Linked DNA regions of Homo sapiens: region 1 is linked to region 2. A link means that fine-mapping ties the variant in region 2 to the expression of a gene that starts in the linked region. Tissue or cell type: whole blood. Region 2 holds a variant in brackets; the other region holds the start of a gene. All regions are shown on one strand. Distances are from middle to middle.

Evidence for each region. PIP is the estimated chance that this variant, and not a neighbour inherited with it, causes the effect.
Region 1: it holds the start of LINC00487, and the variant in region 2 is fine-mapped to the expression of LINC00487 in whole blood (TOPMed, PIP above 0.99).

The regions. Positions count from the first base shown.
Region 1 is chr2:6,765,239-6,773,344 of GRCh38, reverse strand. It overlaps LINC00487 (long intergenic non-protein coding RNA 487), which reads left to right and starts at 3,034. Exons shown (of 6, transcript NR_038369.1): 1 at 3,034-3,266. It overlaps LOC105373404 (a long non-coding RNA gene), which reads left to right. Exons shown (of 4, transcript XR_922745.3): 4 at 1-522. RefSeq lists an enhancer at 1-178.
Region 2 is chr2:6,826,838-6,834,943 of GRCh38, reverse strand. It overlaps NRIR (negative regulator of interferon response), which reads left to right. Exons shown (of 4, transcript NR_126359.1): 2 at 1,514-1,630; 3 at 4,838-4,976; 4 at 5,989-6,390. Among named protein-coding and RNA genes, the nearest start is that of NRIR, 9.6 kb to the left of the region's middle. The variant T/C (reference allele first, on the strand shown) is at 3,107.

The DNA.
Region 1 (8,106 bases), 62 kb after region 2:
CGAGGACTGACCACTGGGTGGCACTGTTGCTCCATGGAGAGCTGCCAACGGCGTCCCCGGGGACCCGGCCACGTTGAGCACAAAAGGTGGGATTTCTAAGGTGTGCTCGGTGATGAGTTTCTTAATGAATTTACCTCTTCTATGGAATCTCCCTCTGCAGCGTCTCCTGCCGCCCGGGGCCGGTTTCTGACTGTGGACTCTGGGTTGAGCCCATGGGGTCAGTGCGCGTGGAGCTTGCACTGCCCAGACCCACAGCCCCAGGAGCAGCCACCTCCCGTGTCACCCGGGCGGCGTCCTGATGACATCACTTAGAAGATTAAAAATAAATTGAAGCACATGTCACCTTAAAGGGGGCACAAAAAGGACATCTGCATGATTTGATGCATCCATGAGAAAGGGCTGCTGGCTTTTGATTTAAACTGTTGGGAAAGAGGATTTTAAAGCTTGTAAGCTGCTAGTATTTCCAAAAGAATGACTATTTTTTATTTTTTATTATTTAAATTAAAAAAGCACTTCCCTGTTCCCCTGTCCCTACACTCTAATTCTTCTTGGCTTTGATTTGGGCGATATTGTAGGCAGCTTTCTGCTCCACGGTGAAGGTCTGCCCGAGGAAGGACGGGGACAATCTTGGGGAAGATGGGGGAGGCGGGGACCGATTTTCCAGCCCAGAGCTGGGGTCTGCAGAACCAGGAGCCCGGGCCAGGCTGGCCTATCAGCCATGACCATCTGTGCACCTTAGCCACCTACTCACAGCACAGCCTCCATCTGCAGATCCACCTAGGACTCATCCATTCCTGACTGGTCTTTTGTTTCAAAACCCGGCAGCCCCGGCCCCTCCCAAGCCTGAAGTCACCACACACGCCCATCCTCCCATCAGTCACTTCCTGGCTAATGGGGACTGAGGCCCAATCATTCTCGTTTTTCATGCCTTGTCAGAGGCCTGAACACAGAGACAGAGGAAGGGAGAGAGAGAGAGAGGGCAGCTCTGGAGGAGGCGCAGAGTATGGGCAGATGTCCTCATGAAAAATTTACAAGGAATAATCAGAGGCCCCTTCTCTCCCCTCTGGCCAAAGTCCCCCTAGGCTTGTTGCCCGGGCCGCTGTGAGAATATTGGAAAAGTCCCCCTCGTTTTGAAGGCAATCTGGTTCTGGGGGGTTAATGCCCAGCGTTGATGCACTTGGCTGTCCTCTTGAGACCGGGTTGCAAATGCAGTTCAGGCAAAATTGATGAAGTATCAGTTAATCTGAGGCTGACAGTTTAGAGAGGTCACAGCTGCGAGGGGCTGCCAGGGTCTCCCAGAGACAGGACTAAGAAGAGTTAAAGCCAGGGAGGGCCCGGTGAAAGGAAGCATTCATCTTCTTCGCCTGGGCATTTCTCAAACATTGCGCCTGCCAGGATCCCTGAGCCTCTCTCCAGGTGAGCAGTGTGAGTGGGGAGGCTTTCACTCTGGTGCGCACAGTCATGCCTCCTCCCAGACAAATCCAAACCCACATGCCTGGTGTTCCTGGCTCCTTGGGAAGGAAGAAGGAGGGAGTTGCTGCTCCTAATTGAAACAGGCAGTTAGGTCTCCTATGCAAATCCCCTTGCTGTAATTGGCACTGTGAGTGCCGCCTGCTCATTCCTCCGTTTCCCGCTAGGGGAAGGTCATCTTGGTAAGAGATGTGTCCACACGGGGTGGGCTCTGAGCTGCTCAGAAGGAACTCTGCAGAAGTGGGGAACCATTGACTCACACCCTTCCCATAGGTGGTTTCCTTCAGGCTCCAGCAATTTTTTACAACAAGGTGGTACAATGAGAAAAATACCGCTCTGCTGTTAGACCACATATTTCAATCCTTGTACTTCCTAAGAGTTCTGATAGTCCAAGAGGCTGGGGGCTATGGCCATGTTTCTCACTCGAATTGCCCTGGTACTGAAATGCATCACGTGTAGGGGAGACTCAGTGTTTGTGAGCACACACTGAGTGACTATAACTGAGTGATTTCAGAGAGACAGAAGAAGGCATGCAAATGCACTTGTCTTGAGTTGTTTTCTAGGGGACATGCTCAGGGCTCTGGGACCTACCTAGTCATCTCGCTGCCTGGAGAGGCGGCTGCTTGGCCATGTTATCTCCATGCCTTCTAAATTAGGATGCGGCTTTAGGTTCACATTCATAAATAATTGGGTTTTATGGGATAGGAAGCAGCAAGGGCTTTGCGTTGATCGGCCCTGGGTTGGGTCCTGGCCTCCCTAAGCTTTGAGAATGATTTTATCATCACCATTGCCTGCTTATGGGAAAATAGGGCGGCAGTTAGTCGTGGAGTCCCTGTGACAAAGTGGCAGGTGGATGGCTGCGCCGGGGGTCTAACCTGCGCTGTCACACTCCGTTCCCTCTTCCTTTCAGTGACAAGAATGCAAGTAATAGTGCTGAGAATCGTGTGCTCAGCTGTGCTGGGCTGAGCATTTTATGTGCATGAACTCATCCCTCCCTGCGAACTTGTGAGAAAGGTATTATTATTATCATTATTAATATTATTATTACCGTATTCTCTCTGCTTACAGACAGAGAGATTGAGGTGTGGCAAGTAGGTAGTAAAATCCACCTTCTTCTTCTGTGAGGTTCCTCCTGTTCCCAGGGGTGTGGGGACGGTGAGTGGTGGATGGGTGAGGTCTTACAATGCAAAACTGCTGATTTCTACATCCGAAAAAAATCATGAATATGAACGATTATAGCCAGATTGAAACTATCATTATTTTCGGTAAGAAAAAGTGCGTCTATTCACAGAAAGTCAGGTACTTTTCCCCAAAATCACATGGGAAAAGTGTGCAAATACAGAACAGCCCTTCCAGGAAGGAACTATTTTCTCCGAAACAGGAAATTGTTGTACATTCAGACACACCATAAATACACGTCTAGTTTGTACATGGCAATTCCAGGGTCTGAGGCTCTTCCTTCCTGGCCCTAGAATGGCGTCTCTTGCGCTGTGGGCTTCCTGTTGAGGCAGGGGCTGAGGAGGTGGGAAGCAGAGGCTGAGATTTTCCTTCACCACGGTCACAGAAGATGCGCTGTTCCAGGGGCCTGGGTGGGAGCAGCCCAGGAGCCTGCGTCTCCCCTCCTCGGCCCTGGGAGGCGGCTGGACTGTGCCACACGGGACGGGTGCTGAGGGACCGCTGGGTGCCCACCTCCCTGACCCCTCCTGCAGGGGTGCCTGCCAAGCAGCCTGGGCACTGCCGTCTGGAAGATGCGCCGTGCCGGTTCTACACGGTGTTCCCTTGCTCCAGGCAGAAAGGTCAGTCCAGGCTTCTCACTCCATCGTGGCCAGAAGCCAAGTCTCATGGCATGAGATTCAACCAAAGAGAATCTCCTGGAGCTTCTTTACCTCATCAGACTTATATCCCACACAACACACACACACCCCCATCCATAAATGTGTGTATGTATATACCACACACGTACACACACATATGCCACACACATGCACACCACACACACAGAATGAATACACATACACCACACACATAAACACACACGTGTGTATGTATATATCACACACTTAAACACACGCATGCCACACACGTGCACACCACACACACAAAATGAATACACAGACACCACACACACAAACACAGAGATATCACACACATACATACACACACCATGCAACACACAAACATGCATACACATATTCCACACACAGAAACACACAGACACCACACATATACACACAGACATGCATACACACAACACACATATAAACACACAAATGCCACACACCAACACATGCCACACACAAACATGCACACACATACACCACACACATAAACACACAATACCACACACATACACAGACACTAACACACACTACACAAACATGCACACACATACACTACACACAAAAATACACAGATACCACACACATACACAGACACTAACACACACTACACAAACATGCATACACATACACCACAGATGTAAACACACAGATACATACATACACACACACCAACACCCACACTACACACATAAACACATGCATCATATGTAACACACATTACACAGACTTATATCCCACACAACACACACATACCCACATTCAACACACACACTTGCTCACACCCCTTCCCACACAATCCAACACACACACCCCCACATTCAACACACACGCATGCTCACACCCCTTCCCACACAACCCAACACACACACACCCACATTCAACACACACACTTGCTCACACCCTTTCCCACACAACCCAACACACACACACCCACATTCAACACACACATATGCTCACACCCCTTCCCACACAACCCAACACACACACACACACGCCTCCACGTACATCTTTTTATGGTAGTTATTTTTTTGTAAGTAAAATATTTGTATAATATCAGCTTATTGTTTGCCATAGCATAACTTATTTCAAACTTGTCCAACCTGCAGCCCATGTGGCCTGGGGTGGCTTTGAATGCAGCCCAACCCAAATTTGTAAACCTTTTAAAAACATTGAGATTTCTCAGCTATGATTTTCTTTAGCTCATCAGCTATTGCTAGTGTGGTGTATTTTATGTGTGGCCCAAGACAATAATTCTTCTTCCAATGTGGCCCAGGGAAGCCAAAAGACTGGACGCCCCTGAATTATGTGGTTCTCATCCTAGGTGATTTTGCCCCTGGAGGTAGGTGGAAAGTCTGGAAACATTTTTGGCGATCGCAGCTGGAGGGGGCTCTTGGCATCTACGGGTGGAGCCAGGGTTTAGGGTGTGTGCAGCACCAAAGGCTCGATGCCTCCCCAACACCAAAGAACCCTCTGAGCCCGTAGTGCGGAGACCAGAAACCCGATTTCAATTTCCTAGTAAAAGAAAACGGAAATGAAAACGACAAAACGGTCCTGTGTCTTCTCTCTTCTCGGTGCAGCTATCTGGATGGGGCGACTTGGAATTCCGAGTCTAGGCCTTGCACTGATTTTCCCCCCTGACATCTGGGAAGCCATTTCACTGTTTAAAACCAAAGATGCTGAGTGGCAGCTGCCACCAATTGGAAGGGGACAGGAGAAAGGGATTTTTATGAAGAGCCTGTGTGCCTTGGATGCTGCAGGTGGAGACCTCTGCAGTTTGTCCAGCAACTGCCTGCCAGAGATGGGCCAGAGAAGGGCCAAGCAGCTCCCTCCTATCGGAGGTCCACAGGTGGACCCCCACCCCCAGTCTCCATCCCCGGTCCACGCCCCAGTCCCTGCTGGTGGGGAAGCTGGGGAGCAGGCCATGCGTGTAATTCCAGAAGCTATTGCATGGCAAAGGCTACGTGCCCTCAAAGCCCGGGCACCTCCCTGGCCCCACAACTGCTTCACACAATACTTGTGTTTCTGTACGTTCTATGTGAAGTTTCAGGAAAGAATCTGTAAGTGATGTCTAAAGCAAGTTTCTGAATATTTATGCTGTAATACACGGCCATGAGCATGCTGGCTACTCATTTCTAATCCTATGACAAATGCACAAGGGCAGGTACTGGGAGAGTGAACTGTTTCCCTGGCCAGGGACCCAAGCACCACTTGGGGCATCAGAAGGAAGCCCTCTGGTTTTGGCCAAGGAGAAGCTTGCACTGTTTTACTAGAAACGTCCTATGTGAATCCATCCTCTGTGATTCCACGACTTTGTATGACTTGCTTGGTGCTTCCAAGGACGTAGGAACTGAAGGGTGGGGCATGTTCTGTGCACTTTTGTCATGGGAAAGCTGGCTTTTGGGAAACCCCCTGGCCCCACAGTTGCTCCCAGAAGCCATACTGGGGGAAGGGCCTGGGGAATGTTCCCAGAGGGTCATGTTGCCTTGATTCATCCTGATGGGGATTTGGGGAAGGGCGAGTGACACCATCATGACTGGGTGCGCCCAGACTGCCTGTCTGCCCTGCTATTTAGAAGCAATATTAGCGAGGGCTATAGTTTTTTTTTCTTTCTTTTTTTTTTTTTTTTTTAATCAGTAAAAATGAGTTCCTAACTTTAGTTCAGAGTCTTAGTTAGGTTTCAGTTTCAGAGAACTCTTTCAAAAAAGGGAATATGTTAGAAGGCCCACAGTGGCCCTTAATAATTTTGAATTAGCGTTAGAATGAGACACCTGATGGCAGTGATTCCGAGTGGAGACCCTGGGCCAGCGTCCCCAGCACCGCCTGGGAACCTGTGAGAAGCACAGCTTCTGGGCCACACCGTAGAGCTGTCTTTACATTTTATACCTCTTCAAACACCGCATAGTCTCACTCATAAGTGGCAGTTGAACAATGAGAACACGTGGACACAGGGAGGGAATATCACACACTGGGGCCTGTTGGCGGGTGGCGGGGCTAGGGGAGGAATAGCATTAGGAGAAATAACTAATGTAGATGAGGGGTTGACGGGTGCAGCAAACCACCATGACACGTGTATACTCATGTAACAAACCTGCATGTTCTGCACATGTATCCCAGAACTTAAAGTATAATATAAAAAGAAAAAAAAATTTATAACTCTTCCAGCAGTTTCTATCCATAGCACATAGAGCTTGTGTTTTGGTTTGGTTTTGCTTAATTTTCACAAGCCTGCAGTTGAAAGTGAAATGAGATGAGGTTAGCGAAAAGAGGCAGGAACTCTGGAACCTTAAGGTCCTACAACTTCAAATGTGTCACTGGCAATAACCTGGCTGCCATTTTGGTTTTGTCTAAATGAAAGCAATGATCAGTTAGTGTTATATAAGATATAAACATTTAAAATGTTCAAAATTCCCTAATCTTTCAGAAATGTAAATTGAGACAAAGAAAGGTCAGGGTTTCTCCTGGGACCACCCGTTGTCCCCAGATCAGACAAAAATCCAGTCTTCTGAATTCCCGTTGCAAAGTTGTGTTTGCATCACTGCATCTTGATCCTCTTCCTACTGCAATGTTTTAATTATCTAAAGAATAAGGGCATTAGATATGAGGGATAACATCATGAAGGATTTCCAAACAATTCGGTAGCCAGCGAAGATCACTGTTTGCTTAATTTCAATTGAGAGAGACAGGTCCGTCTTCTACAATGAATGCATTTTACACATTTTTAAATGTTTGCCTCATTTATGACATGTTTACCTTAAAAAAAATTTAATAAATGATTTTGGGCCAGGCGTGGTGGCTCATGCCTGTAATCCCAGCACTTTGGGAGGCCGAGGTGGGTGGATCACGAGGTCAGCAGATTGAGACCATCCTGGCTAACACGGTGAAACCCCATCTCTACTAAACATACAAAAAATTAGCTGAGCATGGTGGCACGTGCCTGTAATCCCAACTACTCGGGAGGCTGAGGCAGGAGAATCGCTAAAACCTGGGAGGTGGAGGTTGCAGTGAGCCGAGATCGCACCACTGCACTCCAGCCTGGGTGACAGAGAGAGACTCCATCTCAAAAAAAAAAATTTCATAAAGATGGGTTTTCTCTTATCCTGCCCAATCTTAACAGATGTTTGAAACCGACTCCCATAAAAAGTAGGCTTTGTAATCGAGTCTCAGAAAGTCTGAGGCTGCCTAGGTCTGCCGGATGCTCCCATTCGGTGACCTTGATACTAAACAGGAAAGGAAAGGGCAGCTCCATTTGCCCGAAGGCTTTTAACAGAGCTGGTGGGGGCTGCTCCACTGCCCCAGACCCTGGAAGAGAGTTGGGATCCAAGCCTGGGCGGAGGCCTTTCTGAAGTGAGAGGCTTTGTGGTAGGCACAGCCAGACACCATTGGTGGAACTGAATTTGTCATTTTACCTGGTCTAGAAATGAACCCTAAACAAAAATCTTCAAGTATCAGTAAGCTGAGGAGGAAGCTACTGGGGCTGTTGAAGTGCTTGGTGTCGAAACATCTACGTTGGAGGGTGACGCCGCCAGGTGTGCCTGTTGGCTTGGTTGATTCTTCTTGCCGATATGCAGCCTGGACTTCTCAATGCAGAAAGCAGAGGCTCCTGACTCCAGAGATATCTTTCAGGCAGTGATTTCCTTTAAAAGAAAATAAATAGTTTCAAAATATAGTGAATAAACTTGCATGTGAATAAACTTGGAAAGCACGTTAGCCTATATTACCAAGTTGTATTTGAGCACACTCATTTCAGGGAGTAAATTTTTAACATGTGTTCAAGGGTGATAAGAATTGTGCCTAT
Region 2 (8,106 bases):
GCATGTCATAAATGAAAAGATAGGAAAGCTCGTGGAGAAGTGGAAACTCTAAAAAGGTATCAAATGGAAATTATAGAACTGAAAATTACAACAGCTGAAATTAAAAGCCATCACTGGATGGCTTTAGCGGTGTAATAGAATTGACAAAGGGAAGAGTCCATATACTTGAGGATAGATTAGTGGAAATTATCTGCTCCAAAATATAAACAAAGCATTGGAGATTTGTGATACAATATGAAAAGATCTAACATACGTCTAATTGGAATTCTAGAATGAAAAGAGAATGAGAATGAAATGTTTTTTAAATGTGAAGGAACCATATTTCCCCTTTTATGGGTAAATGTTTTCACAAAATGTTTCTCCAATATAGTGAAACATAAATTTACAGATTCAAAACATCTCAGTGAACCCCCATCATTGTAAATCCAAAGAAAACAATGCCTAGGCATATCATAGTTGTATTGGACAGTGACCTTCTAAAACTGATGTCCTTTCTGGAACTTCAGAATGTGACATTATTTGGAAATATGGTTGCTGCAGATGTAATCAAGTTAAGATGACATCATATTGGATTAGAGTGAACCTTAATCCATTATGACTAGTGTCTTCATAATAAGAAGGGAAGATGAGACAGAGACATGAGACACAATGTCATGTGATGATAGAGGTAGAGATTGGACTGATGCAGCTGAAAGCCAGGAACACCAAAATATGATCATCACTACCAAAAGATGGAAGAGGTAAGGAAGGATTCTATTCAGAGTCTCAGAGGGAAGACACCTTGATTTTGGACTTCTAGTTTTTGGAACTGTGAAAAAATAAATCTCTGTTGTTTAAAGCGGCCCAGTTTTGAGTATTCTGTCACAGCATAACTAGAAAATTAATGCACTCATCTAAACACTTAAACCAAAGATAAAATCTTGAAAGCAGCTGAAGAAAAAATACATTATAAATATTTATATGAAAACAAAGATGTAAGTTATTGCTGACTTTATATTAGAAACTATGGGCAAGAGAGTGCAACAAGATCTTTAAAGTACTGAAAGAAAAATATACCAACATAGAATTCTATGTACAGTAAAAATGTGCGAAATAAGGTGAAGTACTGACATTTAAAAAAAAAACAAAGGTAAGAGAATTAATCACAAATAATGCTACATTAAAATGTATGATGTGGCACATTATCAACATGACAATTAACGTGATTCATCAAAATGTTTTACATTTTGAGCCCCACTCTGAATTACTCAAACAGTTGAATGTTTGTTATGGACTGAATGTTTGTGTCCCCCCACCTCCAAATTCTTATGTTGAATTCCTATCCCCTAGAGTGGCTGCATTTGGAGATGGACCTCTAAGGAAGTAATTAAGATTACTGAGGTCACAAGGGTTGGGTCCTGATCCAATAGGATTTGTGTCTTTATAAGAACAGACACAAAAGTGTTCTCTCCCTTCCATGCGTGCACTCTCTCTCTTCCCCTCCCTGCCCTTGCCTCCTTGCGTCTGCATAAAGAAGAGGTTATATGGGCACATTGTGAGATGGTGGCCTCCCATGAGCCAAGAAAAGAGGGCTTAAAATGAATCCTACCTGGCTGGCACCTTGATCTTGGACTTCCTAGCATCCAGAAATGTGAGAAATAAATTCTTTCTCTTTCTCTTTCTCTTTCTCTTTCTCTTTCTCTTTCCCTTTCTCTCTTTCTCTTTCTCTTTCTCTTTCTCTTTCTCTTTCTCTTTCTCTTTCCCTTTCCCTTTCCCTTCCCTTTCTGTTTTCCTTTCCCCTTTCCTTTCCTTCTTTTCTCTTTCTTCCTTTCTCTTTCTTTCTGTTTCTTTCTCCCTCCCTCTCTTTCTTTCTCTCTCTTTTTCTTTTCTTTCTTCTTATTGGGATGGTTCTCTATTTCCCAGGCTGAAATAGCTCACTGCAGCCTCAAACTCCTGGGCTTAAGCAATCCTCCCACCTCAGGATCCTGAGTTGCTGGGATGGCAGTTGTGAGCCACCATGCCCACCTCGTGAGAAATTTCTGTTTAAGCCACTAGCCTGTGGTATTTTCTTATGGCAGCCTGAGCAGATTACTGCAATGTCCTTTAAGTTAAAATAAATTTTCCCTAAGCACAGCAAGCACTTCTATTAGTAAGTAGGAGGCTCAGTCAGTCTTCACGTATGCAAAAGTATTAATAGAATAGGCCTGGGAATGAAAGTGCCTGGTGTTCTATCTCAAACAGTCTACCCACTCAGGGAAACAGCTGTGAAGCAGACATAGCACTTCTCCATTGTCTTCCTTCCTCAGTGGTACATGCCTGGTTTTGTTTATTTTTTTCTTAGACTAGACTAATCTCCTTTTGTGCTGATCCTTCTCTCTGTAAAATCTCTTTTCTAGGAGCAATTATATAGTATCTTAAAAGTGTTTGGACACGTGGATCATTTTGGAACATACACCAAGAAAATAATCAGTGGTACACATAAAAAGGTTTTATTATAACTATTATCTTTAAATAATCAGAATATATTTATGTATGTGTATAATGTGTTTATTTGTAATACACACTGGTTAAATACATTGAGATAAATCCTTTTAATATAATGCTAAGCAGAATGCTGAGCACCTAAGAAGATGTAAATTATCAAAAATACATTTTTTCTCAGTGATAATCTGTGACTTTTTTAACATCTTAAAAATTTTCCCTATTTTCTACAACAGCATGGAAAATTAGAAATGCCATCTTTAGCAGCTTTATCGAGGTATGAATAGCTTGCAGAAAAGTACACACATTTAAAATGTACAAGTTAATTAATTTTGACATATGTATAATCTCATGAAACCATCACCACAGTAGAGACAGCAAACTGTAATATTACCTCTAGAAATGTCCTTGGGTCTTTTTGCAATCCCACCCTTCTGCCCTCCTCCCTGACCTTTTTATTCCCAGGAAAACACAGGTCTAACTGTACAGAAAATTAGTTTTTATTTTCTAGAATTTTAGATAAATGGAATCATACAGTTTGTGCCATTTTTATTAGACTTTCTTCAATTAGCAGCAAAATTATTTTGAGATTCATACATGTTGGTTTGTGGATCAATGATTTATTCCATCCTCTATATTTCTTTTT[T/C]AATTTTGTTGAGTAGTATTTCATCTTCTGGACATGTTGTCCTTAACCTGGGTTGGTCCCAGATTTTACCTGTTGCAAATAAACTGCTCTGGGCACCGTGTGCAACACTTTCTGTTGTTTTTCATGTTTTTGTGTAAATCTCTATTTCCGTCTAATATTTTTTCTTCTTCTGAATGACTTTCTTTAACATTTCTTACGGTGAGTCTGCTGGTGGGTGATGAATTCTTTCAGCTCTTGTATATGTAGAAAAGTCTATATTTTACCTTAGTTTTTGAGAGAGATTTTCCCTTCGTGTAGCATTCTAGGTTGCAGAGTTTGTTTGTTTATTTCTTTTAGTACTTTAACAATGTTGCTCCAATGTCTTCCCACTTGCATTATCTCTGATGGGAAATCTGCTGTCCCCTTCTGGTTGTTACTCTCTATGTAACCTGTATCATTTCTGGGCTGCTTTTTTTCTTTTCCTCTGGTTTGAATCATTTGATTATGATGTGCTTTGGTGTACAGTTATTCATGTGCTTGAATCTGTGTTTGATCTGTGGATTTATAGTTTACATTAAATTTTGAAAAAGAAAAAAGCTCAAATAGTTTTTCTGTCACTTCTCTCTTTTCTCCCTGGGGATTCTAATTACATATGTATTAGTTGACTGAAGCTGCCCCACAACTCACCGATGGTCTTTTATTTATTTTTTTGCAGTCTTTTTTGCCCTGTGTTTTTTTCTGGGTAGTTTCTATTGCTGTGTGTTCAAGTTCACTAATCTTTTGTAGTGCTCAATTGCAATGGATCAACCTAATGGACTATAAAGTTGTATAGTCTGGCTAGTAAGAACAGACACCAGGCAGTGTCTGACCCTGACCCTGGGTTCTAGTTCCTCTAATCTTTTTGGAATTTTCTTCACCTGGCCTTAGGTAGCATTTCTCACTCTCACGGTTCAATGATCAAGGAAGACTCTCTATAGAACTCAAACATTCTCTCTGTGCATCTCTAGCTCCAACTGCCTTGGTCTCCTGGGACTCCCAGCTCTATCCCTCTACTCAGGGAGACTGTTGGATTCTTCCTGTTTAATCTTTCAGTCTGCAAACTCCCAGAAGTCAGTGTGCTCAGGCACTTGTAGGGCTCACCTCATTTCTCTCTGGTCACAGGGACATTTTCAGTTGTTACTATTGTTTCATAACCTTGTCTGATTATTTGGTTTCTTCATGTTGGGGGATAAAGCTTTCTATTACTCCATCTTGTCAAGACACAAAAGTCCCTAGTGTAGTATTTTAAACAAGCAAAACCACCCTATCTTTCCCTCATATGTGACTTTTTATATCTTTATTTTGTAAGATTTCTTTAACTTTGTGTTTAAATCTTCTACTAAGATTTTCATTTCTGCTATCAAGTTTCTAAATTCCAAAGCCCCTCCTTTCCCCCCTTTTCTTCTTTCCTTTCTGTCTTCCTTTTCTTTTTTCCTCTCTTCCTTCCTCCCTTCTTTACTCTTTCTTTTCTTCCCTCCTCCATTTACTCCTCCTCTGCATTCTCTCCCTGCATTTCTTCTTTTCCTCCTTCCTTTTTTTCATCTTTCTTTTCTCATTATTTAAGGTTCTTTGAAAATATTTTTTTCTTGGATGCAATATCTGTACGTATTTTTCTGCCACTATTAATTATTGCTTCACTTACAGTGATTCCTGCAAACTTTCAATCTTCTCTAAGGTGGGGCTTTGTTTATTTATTTTATTTGCATCTTCCAGGTGACATGGTTTTCTGGTGCCTTGGCAACTGCTCACGATGCATGGGAAGACTAAACACTTTGTGTACAGCATTCTGTCTCATCCAGTGAAGACTTCCTCTGGATTATTGCAGCAGACACCTCTAACCTCCTTAATCTGTGTATGTAACCTAATCACTCTTTTTTTTTTTTTTTTTTTGAGACAGAGTCTCACTCTGTCATCCAGGCTGGAGTGCAGTAGCATGATCTCGGCTCACTGCAACCACCTCTGCCTCCCGGGTTCAAGCCATTCTCCTGCCTCAGCCTCCCGAGTAGCTGAGATTACAGGCATACGCCACCATGCCTGGCTAATTTTTTGTGTATTTTCAGTAGAGATGGGGTTTCACCATGTTGGTCAGGCTGGTCTCAAACTCCCGACCTTGTGATCCACCCACCTCGGCCTCCCAAAGTGCTGGGATTACGGGTGTGAGCCACTGTGCCCAGTCGAATGTTTGATATTTTTAAGAACCTTTTAGGTGTGGTTTTGCATTTTCACTCTTTTCATGCTTTAAAGCACACATCTTGTTACAACTCTTCCATGGAAAATCTCTGCCTTCCAGGGCTAAGCAAGGCTGTCCTTGGTGTGGCTTGCAGACTGAATTCAGCCAGCATGGTGCTATTTGATTTTACTTACAACAAACAAACAACTGTTCAGATTATTAGACAATGGAATGGGAATACCTTTGGAGTCACAATTTCTCCAATTCGCCATGTCTCTCTGTTGCTCTACAACTGTAAGGAGAGAAAAATAATTAGAAGAAGAGTCTCCCTCAATAGAGAGGCAGACATACACACCTGGTGATCATCACTGTGGTCCTGCCCACCCTGGCACAGGTGGGTCAGACAAACCTGGTCTGATTCTGATTTACTTTGCCTGAGGGAGTTAACAAAGGTTTCAGAGAGAGGGAATCAGAAAACCCTCATGTAAAACAGATACCATACATGTTAGATCGAATTACAATGGAGTAAACATTTCTTTCTTATTAATGTTGTTAGTGCTGTGTTTCTTGTCCTATTCAGTGACATGCTTTGACCTAGTAATTTTTATACGTGGACTGATTTTCAGATGCATGTGGGCATAAATTAAATACCAAGCATCTAATGTGGACTTGTGTATTTCTTTTTTTTTTTTAGACTGAATCTTGCTCTGTCGCCAGGCTGGAGTGCAGTGGTGCGATATTGGCTCACTGCAACCTCCGCCTCTCGGGTTCAAGCGATTATCCTGCCTCAGCCTTTTGAGTAGCTGGGACTACAGGCACATGGTACCATGCCAGACTAATTTTTGTATTTTTAGTAGAGATGGGATTATCACTATGTTGGCCAAGATGGTTTTGATCTCTTGACTTCGTGATCCGCCCTCCTCGGCCTCCCAAAGTGCTGGGATTTCAGGCGTTAGCCACCGCACCCAGCCTGGACTTGTCTATTTCATTTGGAGAACTTCAATTGATCTAAATCTACTTTGCAGCTTTTCATTGTTAATTTTGAATTTATTTAAACAAGTAAAATATTTAAGACATTTGTGTGGAAAACCTGTAACAAATTGCATTTGGTTCAATCCCTGATTATGTTTTAGATATGCCAACTCTTTTTCTCTCTTTTTTTAAAAATTTGATAAATACTGAAACCAATTCAATTTAGATCAAATACATTACATTTCCACTAGAGGGAGGAAAAGCGCTAATTTTGAACCTTTATGAGGGAACTGTGCTTTTGCCGAGATAATCACTTCCCTCATTACACACAAACTGTGTCTGGAAAAACAACAGTAGTTCCTTTCATTTTTATTTAAATCTCTTCTCTAATGGGAAAACAAAGGACAAAACAGGGAACACTTCTAGGTCAAAGTAGCAAATCTTTAAAAGTGGCTAATTTCTTGCTTCAAGAATTCTAAATACAGCCCCCAGGGTCAGAAAAATATTCAAAGGAAAACCTTAGTGATCATGGAACGCAATCTCTTTCTTTAATAGTGGTGAAAAATGAGGCCCACAGAGAGGCCTGCCCTGCCTAGGGTCATGTAATTTGTTAGTAGCAGATGCACGCGAGAATAGAAGTTCTGCAGTTCTTTTTCTAGTGCTCTTTATAATGCAGTATGGTCTCAGCATATCTGATGCAGTAAATGATATGTACATACACACACATTTTTTTAGGTACATATATATGGATGCATATGTTTTCTTCCATGTGAGGTAATGATTTGAAATTTGGCTTTAAGAGACATTCTGGGGATTTTATGTGTCCTTGTTTATTTGCTCTTAAAACCTCCCTACCCCCTCGTCATTGTAGAACTCTGGATGCACTGCTTATGTTGGATACAGCTAATGGGTCCTGCAAGGCCCAGGCTCTTGTAATTATTGAGCAATCGCCAAAATACTGTGGTTTAGAAAACACATCATAAACTTTTCTGTGGAGTCTCCAAAATTTTTATTAACATGCATGACATTAATGGTTGTGCTTATTTTGCCATAATTGAGGGTGTGTCCCATTTCTCTCAAATAAGAAGGCATTCAAGGGAGCTATCAAATTTCACTTTTGGCTGAACCTGGTCTGTAAGCTTTTCCAAACCTAATGCATTTATGCTCATCTTTGAGATTGAAAACATTATTTTCTGTGTTTTAATTGAAGAAAAAAAAATCCAAACACTCAAGTTCTCCATTCTGAAGCTGTAATTAAGAAAATATCCATCAATAAATGTGTAATTATTTTAAGCCATAATTTTTTTTCAGTAGGTCCTGTTGTAATAACTAACGATTGAAGAGTTTTCCTCATGCCTCCAAATGTCCTCACTAGTGTCTCTAGACTATTTCTACCTGAAGAGAGCTTGCATTAAAAATAAGGGTTAGGGTTAGGGAATTTGGAGATACATTTATAAGGTGAACTTTGGGTGGAACTGTGGTCATTTTATTAATTTTAAAAATTATTAATTCTTCCTCTTCTATGTGCATACATGCAAAGTAATGAATGAAGGAACTTCTGGCTACAAGCAGATGTAGGTACCACTTCTAACTGAGTTTGTGACCTCTGACAAGTTATTCATCTCTGGACTTTAGTTTTTTATTTGCAAAATAAGAAGGTCAGACATGAGGAGGACCAAGAGCCCATTTCTAGTGGGCCATGACTTTAATTTGCCATGATGAGTGGAAGTCACTTATAGTCTTAAATGCCTTATAATTTTTAACAGGATCATAACACAAGATATGCTGTTTTATGCCATTCTGTTACTATTCTAATAACTTGGGAAAGCATGGTATTGGT